Linked DNA regions of Homo sapiens: region 2 is linked to region 1. The links come from fine-mapping of genetic effects on gene expression. A gene starts in region 1. The other region holds a variant in brackets. All regions are shown on one strand. Distances are between the middles of the regions.

Region 1 (5,385 bases):
TTTTGTTGTGGAGATTTTGTTCAAGCCATGGATCACCTCTGGTTCGTGTTTGGTGGTGGAGGGAAGATCTTAATTACTAACCCTACGCATTTCTCTTTTTTTCTTTCTTTCTTTTTTTTTTTTTTTCTGGTTTTGCTTTTGGCTGTCAGCTAAGTAGAGGAAGGTAAGAGTCTTTGTTTGAATTAGAGTGCCAAAAGACGGAATAAAGATGAAACAGTGTTTCAGTATGCAGCCTGAGCTTTCAGCTGATTCTCGTAGCCCTGATCCTACCATATCCAGTACTAGTGGCACAGGACCGCTTCACATTCTATGATTGCCTGAGGAATAAATTAATGAGGTTACTGAGACACTGAACATTTGCATATTCACGGATGCTTATTAGGTAGAAAGTGAAAGCCAGGTGCACTGAATTTGGGGGATAGAGAATTTGTTAAGAAGTCACATCTTTCCGTCCTCCAGAAAAGGGGTGTCCTGTCACTAAAAATAATAGGCAGGCAAAACTCCTGCTTAGTGAATATCTGAACAATTATGATATAATGGAAAGATAAGGCAAAAGAGGGTCTTGCTTGAAAGCAACAGAGAAACCAAGGCACTGCCCTTGTTATAAGGAGACCTGGACGTGGTGGTTCTGGAGCATAAAGGAGGCACATGTTATTTGCTGTCTTTGGATTTTATGCTTTAATTATGCTGGTGGTGTACACAGCTGAACATGATGCCTTTGTACCTAATGCAAAATTACCAATTTAAGAAGACCTTTACATTTGTAAATATTATTATTGACAGGCCACCCATCCAAACTGGAACGGGGAAAAGCTTTTCTAAGAAAATGGTGTCGAAACCTGAATCACAGAATTAGGCTTGACTGTCTCTCTAAGGGACATCAGTACATGGTTCTGCTGTTGGTGATTTCTGCTGGGGCTGTGTGTGGAAGCACATTGTTTGAGCTATTTGTATCTCATTATTGTGAGAAGTTTTTATGCTGCTCTGGGTCATGGCTTGGAGACTGCCTCCTCAGAGCTTAAATGGGCAGATTTCATATTCTTCCCATCCTTGGGAATACTTCATAAAACAGAATTACAAGAGTCCATGTTTTTTTCGGAGCACCGTGCAGTGGGAGAGCCTGTCTTGCCTTTTTTTTTTTTTTTTTTTTTTGCTGTCGTTTTATACAGGTATTTTTTTTTCTTTCTATTTCTTTTTTCTTTTACTTTTTATTTCCTCTTTAAAGAAAATGATTGGCAGCACTCAACCTCAAGGAACTGATCTATCAAAACCAAGCTGGGATAAGTATTTCTTTGAGAAATAATATATATTTACCAACAGGCTCTATTCTGCCCCCTTGTTTCACAGCACCTTGAATATCACTTCCTTTTCCTGCCCAAAGCAGGAGGTAACCCTGTATTAAAAGCATAGTAGGTGTGTGTGTGTACAATACACACATACAGCACACATGTCTCTATTTAGAGATTCCATGATATGTGTTCTATATACACTTTACAGTCCCTTTTCTTAATGTCAAAAATATAATTTCCAGCGTCTAAAGAGTGTTTTCAAAGACTTTTGCCCTATTTTTTAAAATAGTGTCTAAATATGATTAAGTGTCTTCCCAGAGAAAAGTCAAAGAGGCTCCTAGTGTTAATTTCCATATTGCTTAAGACTTAAGCTTTTAATTTATTTTATCAAGGTTGAGGGAGTATAGTAATTGTTGGAACAACGCCCTTCCAAAAGAAATCGCCTGCACTTGTTTTTAAGTTCAATTTGTTTTCTCACACAGATTTTTGATACACTCTTAAATAAACTAGAAATCACAATTATTTTAATGTGGCAGAGTTGTAACCAGGAAATTGCATATATTTTCATAAACTAGGCTGTTATAGATTTATTAATATTTATTAATAACATTATTTTAAGAAATTTTTTTAACGTCTTTCAACCCTGAAAGGGCCTGCTTGAAACATACACGGCAGCAAAATCACTGGAGTCCAGGGTTTTTGTCACACACACACACAGCACAGATTTTTTTGATTATGTAGATTTCTTTTCCTACTGCAGTTTCATATGCAAAGCATGCATCAGCCACATCCATGCTATCTCCTAAAGCAGTCATTCTGAAACCCAATCTGGGGACAGTGCAGACTAAATAAAATTTCATTTTGATTTGGCCTCCCGCTGCGAATGGGACTGCTTTGTCTCAGCCGACAGAACCAGCAAGCCAGAAAGGTATGTCCTGTTTTGCATGGCTGATGGTGTGTCTTGCGGCTCACAATCAGGCCGCCTTGCTCCCGGCTCCTCCACTTCCTGCTTCTCTTTCTCTTTCCCCTTCCATTTGCTCCCGTGCTGCCTGCCTTCTACCTGCAGGGCACAGCCGTGGCAAACCCGCACCGATTGTTTACTTTGGCATATGCTTAATGGCGCGCGTGGCTGTTTGCTTTTTTTTTTTTTTTCACTGTCTTTGTTGGTGGTGGCTTTTCTTTTTTCTGTTTTGGTTTTTGTTTTGCTTAGCTTTCCTCGCCCACATTGGCTTTCCCTGTTTCTCAAGGTGTGGAATACTAAAATACTGACTGAAAGGAAAATTGTATAGGCGCTGCTGTGACGCTCCAGAGATTTTACTGGAAGATTTGTCATGCTGATTTTATTGTAAATTTGAAGATGCATTTAACAGCTTTGAAGGACCTTAGCTTCTGTGGCCCTTTGAGCCGCTTTGGCAGAAAAGCAATCGCCCATTTTAGAGAAGGGGGGGAAATAGAGAATAAAGACTCTCCTCCAATGGGACTGAACTGTTTTGCCATCTTAGTATGTTTTATAAAATGCATTGTGGTGTTTTCCTGAAGAGCTGCTAAATATGGCTCTGCTTTAAACAATGACCTTCATTGGGAGTCATCTCATGAGAGACTGGGTTGTGTCAAATGCTCTTCTTACACTTGTCCCACCTTTAGGAGAATGTACTAGCAATCAGGGACAACCTGCTGTGATGTTCTCAGAAGAAGCTTTAGATAAGATGGCGAAGCACCAGGGGACTGACAGTGGTGGGAGCTCAGTTTTCAAGCCCAAATTTCTCCTTGAAATTGTCATTGCCCTTGACCAATTCATAGGGTGCTATAAAGGAAAGAAGTTTTTTCCCTGGCTCACATATTGGCATATCATTAATCTAAATTAAATTACAGCAAACTGGTAAAAGTGGAGATAGAGTAAACGACAAATAAATTGCTTAAGAGAGGAGCAGAAAGGAAAGTTCACTCTGACTCTGGGGTTCTGCCTAAGTAATTCCACATAGGATATAGATTAAAAGATGAAAAGTACCAATTAGCTTCATAGGGACCTCACCCCACTCATCCAGAACAAAAACAAAATAAGTCACAACATGTAACTTTGTAGAGGGTCAAAAATTAACTTTTGTCAATCCATAATGTTGTAGCCATTCCAGAGTTTTGAGGGGAGTGGTGCTCCAGGGGTACTTCCAGATGCCATTTCTGAAATGTAATGGCTGAGGTCTTTGCCGTTACAATAAATTATCCTTTCACCACAAAATCTCTCAGTTCACTATTTTGCACCTGTTAGCTAAGCGCTTTGGGAGAGAAGAGTCACCAAGACCTTTAGTGATTTGTTGATAGACTCCCTACTTATTACATACAACAGATTGAAGAACAAAATGAAAGTTAGTTAAAGAAGACGTTGAAGAAACAATAGTGTGAAAACAGCACGAAATGTCATTTGGTAAATATGCCACAGCCTCACATAAGGAAGAGGAAAATGGCAGTGTGGGCCATGATTGGCAGGTCTGGATCCATAGACTGTGATTTCCAGGATCACCCAACAGTAAGTCTTTTTGCTGTAGCCTTACCATCAGGGCCACTTTCTTGTTTCATAGCTATTGATGATATTGAAAAGCCCAAATTTGCTTTTTGTGCAATTTGTCAGTGCTTTTATAGGATCCATGTGTTGGAATTTTAGGGACTTCTTTAGGTAACTAAGCGAATGTTTTAAGAAGTAAATTCTGCTATGCTGCTACACCGGCTGTCTTAAATACAATTATTTAGCAAGAATAAAGTACTTTTTAAGAAAATTCAAATGCAAACACTAGTTTTGGAACACAAGGTGCTCAAAGAAGATTTATTTATCAATAAAAAAGGTATAGGCATATATGCTTACAGTATGTGTGTGTATATGTGTATAAATATATACACATAGATCTAATACATCTAACATATTCATATACAGAGACTGAACCAATGATGCTGTTAAACAGTCACAAAGCTTATCTTGAAGATTAAAATCAATAAATATATCAACAAATATAGCTAGCAAAGTTCTAAACTATAGTTTGATTTATCATATCATACATGTAATACCATGTATAGTTTGATTTATCATATCATACATGTAATATACACCAAAGGTTTATGTTAAGTGATATAATATTTTTATTAATTGATGGGTTCCTCTTGAACTCCATCTATAGGAGGCAAATTATTATAGTACAATTTAAGCTATCATGTGATTTGGGAAGATGGACTCCACAATGCCTTAGCATAGGTCTGTATATCTCTGCTTTTGGTGTCTGTTATGCCTAATGCAGGTCGTCTTCCAAGTTTCAGTCCATATGTTCCAAACACATGATAGCTCAATGCATCTGCAAGCACAACACATAATAACCTGATAGAAATACTGAAGATAAAGACTGTCATGGTGACTCCTGGCATGTGAGTTTAGTTTCTATGCCTTTTGTTTGCTAATATTGTGATGACCATAATCTGATCTTACGTATTTCATTAGCTGAACCCCTCTCCAAGTAAGAGAAACAACACTAGCTGGAGTGAAATGTAAATTGTGGCGAGAGACAGAGAATTCAGTTTTCTATCCACCCTTCTACCCTACCCTGTCTTGGAAACAGTGAGGGTGCTCAAGTATTCTCTGTGGAGGGAATGAACGAGCGTGTGAATATTGCTGTTGGAGCACATAGAAGAGCGGGAGGCGCTTGTACCAGCAGGAGCCTGGCTCCACATCACCTAGCTCTTAGTACTCATGAAGGGAGGAAAGAGATTTGAGAGACACCAATTCTCACTTTTAGGCCCATATAAACTCCCCAGGCCTGTGGACCCAGTGAAAATGTATGTGCGTTTTTCAAAGGAAATAACTTACATGACGCAGGCAAACTGGGCTGAATAGACACCCCCCAAATGTTAAGGATTTATGAGTTCTAAGCAGGTCAGATCCAGCCACGGAAGAGTCATGAGTGGCAGAGGAAAGAGAATCATAACATTCTCTGGAAAGGTCAGTATGGAAAAAAAAAAAGAACTCTATGTATTTACATGTATTTGTTTATTTATACTCTGTAACTACTTTCTGATTACAAAGAACACATACCATATGGAAAGACTAAACAGAAGC
Region 2 (5,385 bases), 72 kb after region 1:
CTGCTGGTACTTGACCCTTAATTAAATTCTGAAACTTTTTTATATAATAAAGTAAAATACAGCTGACACTTCTGTTCAAACAAAGAGGCTCAAACACAGATCCACCAAATAAGATAAAGGTATTTCAGACTTACCTCGCTGTATTTATAGTAAACATGGATTGTACAGTGTATTTTGAAAGGGAGCTTAAAGTTTAAAATGCAGATGTGTGTTTTCAAGTAATTTCAATTCTGTACTTCGGCTCTGCTCTCCTTAAATGATGCTGAATCTCTGCAAGCTCATCTTGGACACGTCATAATAAAAAAAAATCTGCTTAAAAGACATTTAAATGTGCTCTGAAAATAAGTTCTGTGGGTTCTTTAAACTTTCCATCTTAATATCTAGACTATTCAAAGTGAGTCTTCAAAACTATGCCACTTATGAAGATCCACACAGCTTAGTAAGCTATTGCATCGAGTTTTGTAAAGGAATATTTTCGTCATAAATTTGTTCTTGTCTTAAAAAGAGAAAGCCAAGGCAAATTTTAAAGCAGCATTTTGACTTTAATGAAAAATTGATTGGCTAAAACAGATGTCAGACTGAAACTACAAAGAGCCCAGGCATTATGCAGGTATCAGTTGCTTTGTTAAGAATGGCTGACAGTGAGGAGACTTTGGCTAATGTGTTCTTATTCCCTTTAAACCCTGCCAATGCTCCAGAGCATTTATTTACCTTGGAGTTTCCTCCCTCTTTCAGGGCAGGAAGAAAGATCTTCATTTAGAATATATTAATAAATACAAGTCAGCTTAAAGGGGCAACAGTGTGAGCCCGGTTTTTAATATTTCCTTAGATATAACCCTTTCTAACCAGGCAGCTCACAGAGCCAATGAGCTAAGAAGGTAATTACTTAAGTGGATTTCATGAAGAGTAGAAAGATGATTGTGCCACATTAAATAACAATTGTGTCCTTAATGATGTGTTGGGCTATAATGCAAACATCCCTCCACCATCACAGGCAGGCGCTCCAGCGTACCTTTCTAATGACTCCGGTGGCTCCCGTCCCCCTGCCAGGACGTGGGGCTTTCAGAGCCTATGTAAACACTAAGTGAGCTGGTATATTTTTTTAAACTGCAGTGCCTGCAGCTGCGTGGTCATTGATAAATTGGCTATGAATTGCTGAAATACTTCATATGAATATAAACATTGTTGTAGTTTTGCAGCTTTAAGAAAAACAGAAATGTACTTGACTTGAGAGAGAAGTCTGCAGTTCCAGAGTACAGCCTTCCAGAAAGTTCCTTCTTTGTTGTGTGTGAAGGATCTATTTTCACAAAATCCAGCGAGGTGGACTCAAAAACTGTGAGGGGGTGGGAATGCGGTAGAGAAAATTCATTATTTTAAAAACTTAAAGATTGAATAAAATGTAAGTTAGCGTTTAAGTATCTATCTTAAATAGAAGCAGGAAATAATATTACAGCATATTAGATTTTATTGCTTCAGAATGTGTAGTATTCTGAATGTCCATGTCCACTTGACTTTGTGTAGAAACATTAAAGAAAGGCCACCATAATAAATATATCCAACACCTGAGTTAGGATTCACATTAGCTGCCACCTAACCTTAGAGGAAGAATTTTCACAGTGATGTAAACTTGAGAGATGAAAAGGATAATTAGTCCATGACTATAAATTTTCCTGTCTGCCCTTGGATGTTGTTATAATGACTATTTCCCCCATAGCCCACATTGGTATCTCTTTGTGGACATGCATGCTGAATCTCTAGTCATTTACTCTCTGATGTTAACATTAACAAATTTGAATTTGAGAGACATGATACAAATAAAATGCACAGTCCAAATGTTGAGAAAGTACTTTACACTAAATCCTAGCCAGTTCTTTAGTATTGTACCCATTTCAGAGAACAGAGAAATAAGATACCTAAAATTGGAAAACTCTTACGAATCTTGACTGTAACCTATATTGTGGGAATTGAAATGAACAGATCTCTTACCACTTTTTTGTTTGTTTTATTTAGGGAATGAAGACATTTGGAGAAGAAGCGTTTACTGAAAGGAGATTCCTGGGCTGGAGGAAAACCATGATCTACAGTTCATGTTGACAGATATTGTATTTTTGGTCCTAGATCTGACTTTTGAAATGACTTATCACAAATTCAAATTTAGCAATCATGAGTGAAGTACCCACGATGTGCTAAGCATCTACCTCTGCAGATAGAAGAACACTTACTGTTCCTGAGC[A/G]TGGGAGGGAATAGAAGTTCCTGGGTCCTGGCCTCACCTCATCAGGCACTGCCAAATTTGACACCTCCTTCCTGTTCACGGCAGTCCTTTGCGATAGGGTATTAGATGCCACCAAGTAGCTGCATAACTCACCCATTTGGTCAGAGCCTGGGTCTAAGCCAGGTCTGACAGACTCCAAAGCAAGCCCTGTTTACAGCATGACTGGGATCCAGTGGGTAAGACCAACCTGTCAATGCCCAAGTGCAGATGCAATAATAGTGCTTCAACTGATTGTTGCAAACCCCTCATGAGGGATGCCAAATCCCAGTGCAGATGGTAACACAGGCTATTTTTCACCTCCAACCTCTAATATCCTTTCTTTCTTTCTTTCCTTTTTTTTTTTTTTTTTTTTTTTTTGAGATAGAGTCTCCTCTGTCACCCAGGCTGGAGTGCAACAGCACGATCCCAGCTCACTGCAACCTCCACCTCCTGAGTTCAAGCGTTTCTCTCGCCTCAGCCTCCCGAGTAGCTGGGATTACAGGCACCCGCCATCATGTCCAGCTAATTTTTGTATATTTGTAGAGACGGGGTTTCACCATGTTGGCCAGACTGGTCTTGAACTCCTGACCTCAGGTGATCTGCCCGCCTCAGCCTCCCAAAGTGCTAGGATTACAAGTGTGAGCCACCACGCCCGGCCCCAATATTCTTTCTTACTAGACACTGTGTAAGCTAATTATTCAGCAAGTATTTTGCACTGAACTCTAAATAGGTAAGTATTTTGTGTCCATTTTACAGACAAGAGAAATAAAATAGGTAAAGTATTTCCCCAAAGCTATGATAAATGAATCCCATAGCTAGAAATGGCAGAAAACCCATGGAAACTTCTATGGGGAGTGGATGTCTGCCTTACCTTGGCACAATGCTTGGTTCTCAGATATCATTTCAGTGACATTGCCAAATGGGAGAAACCATGTCTGGTACACGGGACTCAAGCTGCCTCAAAATATCCTGAATGCATTTTTTCAGGGGAGAAAATCCATTTGAATAAGAATAGCTAGTTATAGCTTATTATGTGCCAGACACTATTCAAAGTGTTTAATGTGTATTAACTTCTCAAAACCACTCTATAAGTTAGGTACTATGATTTCCATCTCCATTTTACAGACGAGGGAACTGAGCTGTCAAAACTAAGTGACTTGATTGAGGCCATGCAGCTGGCGAGGGGAGGACCAGGATCTGAACCCAACTGGGTCTCCCAAGCCTGGGCCACTGAACCATTTCACCTCTTGGAAAAACTTAATGGTCAGAGTGGCCCACCCAGTCCATGGACAGCATGGAGGTAATGAACTTTAATCAGAAACTTATTGTGCATTGACTGAGCATTTATTCTTTTAAGACAATATGTTTGGATGTCTTTGGTTGTACAGAATTCAAATTATTAATAATGTTCACAAAAGTTGCCCTGTATTTTTATGCTGAAATACAACAAAATGTCAACTTGGTTCCAGTGACCTTTATACCGTACATATTATGTTTATTGTAGTTCTGTATTGTAGCTAAATTTATTATCTAACTTGTTGATGCCAATAAGCTGATGCATATGAAAGGTACCTGCAAAAAAATTATCATATCAAAACACTTCAGAAGAAGCCATAAAAGTATTATGATAAAATATCAGAGGAAGATATAAAATTGGGGGGAGGTGAAGTTATACTTTGCAGCATTTGCTCACGATATTTGAGAGAGTAAACTTTTCTGTCTTTTAAATGATTTCTGAATTTCTCTAACAGTGCTGCTCTGTTTTCTCGGTCAACCTTGCTGGATAGCCCAGTTTTCCTTTGCAGTCTGCAGAGCATGTGGCAGGACTATAGGCCTGTTTTATCTCTTTCTCACATAGCCCTCTGACCAAGAATCTGCGGAGGTCATCCCTCACCTCCAGAGTTGGTCTTGTCCCTAGCACCCACGTGTGCTCTGTGGCTCAGAATGGTCTACAGGATCTTCCAAATCCAAGCACAGGGTAAAGGTTTGCAGTTTATATTTTTAATTTTTAGTACATGTTTACTGAGCTACCGAAGTGTGCCCAGCACTGTGCACACGCTGATCCCTCCATGGAGCATGGTTGGAAATTCCCAGAGCAGCCCCTTTCTCTGAACACAGTGTGACACAACTCGCTGGCTGTTAGCCCCCGCAAGCCAAACGTGACGAAGGCACCTTCAAGACTCTAACAAGAGCCCTGGGCTCCCATTGCATACATGACATCAAAGGCATTTTCTTTTTCTTTTTCTTTTTTTTTTTTTTTTTTTTTGAGAAAGAGTCTTGCTGTGTCGTCCAGGCTGGAGTGCAGTGGCACAATCTCAGCTTACTGCAACCTCCGCCTCCCAGGTTGAAGCGATTCTCCTGCCTCAGCCTCCCTAGTAGCTGGGACTACAGGCACATGCCACCATGCCTGGCTAATTTTTTGTATTTTTAGTAGAGAGGGGGTTTCACCGTGTTAGCCAGGATGGTCTCGATCTCCTGACCTCTTGATCCGCCCGCCTTGGCCTCCAAAAGTGCTGGGATTACAGGAACGAGCCACCACGACCGGCCTATTTTCTTACACAATAGTTCTACTGGGGCTCCCCAGGCTGCAGACACAGAACCTGAGCTTATGGGGCAGGAGACTGAGTGAGGATACCTATGGGGACCCACATGGAGGAAGGGATGGGAACAAGGCAGGACTGGGAGGGAGAAGCCGGACTCAACAGAGTCCAGCTGACCTTGGGGAGCTCTGAAGATAAAAGCCCTTCAATGTGGTCTCCAGTTGAGGCAAGGGGGTCAGGTCTTTATTCCCCTACACTAACCAAAGGCTAATACAGAATTCCTTAGGAAGAGGCATGACCTTGGGCTAGGCTGCTCTCTCCAGCCAGGGACATTTTTGGAAGAGGCTGGCAGCTGATCTGCTACCGCCATGCCCAGCAGCTGATGGAAGGAGTGTTTTGAGTCCTAACGAGATGTGGAGAGCCCAACGCAATATCCACTAAACTCTCCATGTCTTATCTTAAACCTAGAATCGTGTGCCATCTATATTATTAAAATAGAAAGCAAAGAAATCCAGAGAATTAGCAACTCTCAAAAAAGACAGGATCTCAGAGGTACCCAAGGTTAGTGTCCCCGAACGTAGATACTACTCCTAC

Which allele goes with the higher level. Positions count from the first base shown, and alleles are read on the strand shown. Sizes are in standard deviations (SD) of each study's normalised expression.
For the expression in putamen of the gene that starts at base 2,041 in region 1, A is the low allele of the variant in region 2 and G is the other (moderate effect, 0.53 SD a copy in GTEx).

Evidence for each region.
Region 2: its variant is fine-mapped to the expression of LINC01102 in putamen (GTEx, PIP above 0.99). The same link has a PIP of 0.9 or more in caudate.

The regions. Positions count from the first base shown.
Region 1 is chr2:104,432,307-104,437,691 of GRCh38, forward strand. It overlaps LINC01102 (long intergenic non-protein coding RNA 1102), which reads left to right and starts at 2,041. Exons shown (of 4, transcript NR_015399.1): 1 at 2,041-2,217.
Region 2 is chr2:104,503,856-104,509,240 of GRCh38, forward strand. LINC01102 (long intergenic non-protein coding RNA 1102) reads left to right here. Exons shown (of 4, transcript NR_015399.1): 2 at 2,011-2,448; 3 at 3,377-3,551. LINC01103 (long intergenic non-protein coding RNA 1103) reads right to left here. Exons shown (of 6, transcript NR_110113.1): 2 at 1,013-1,333. Among named protein-coding and RNA genes, the nearest start is that of LINC01103, 4.0 kb to the right of the region's middle. The variant A/G (reference allele first, on the strand shown) is at 2,234.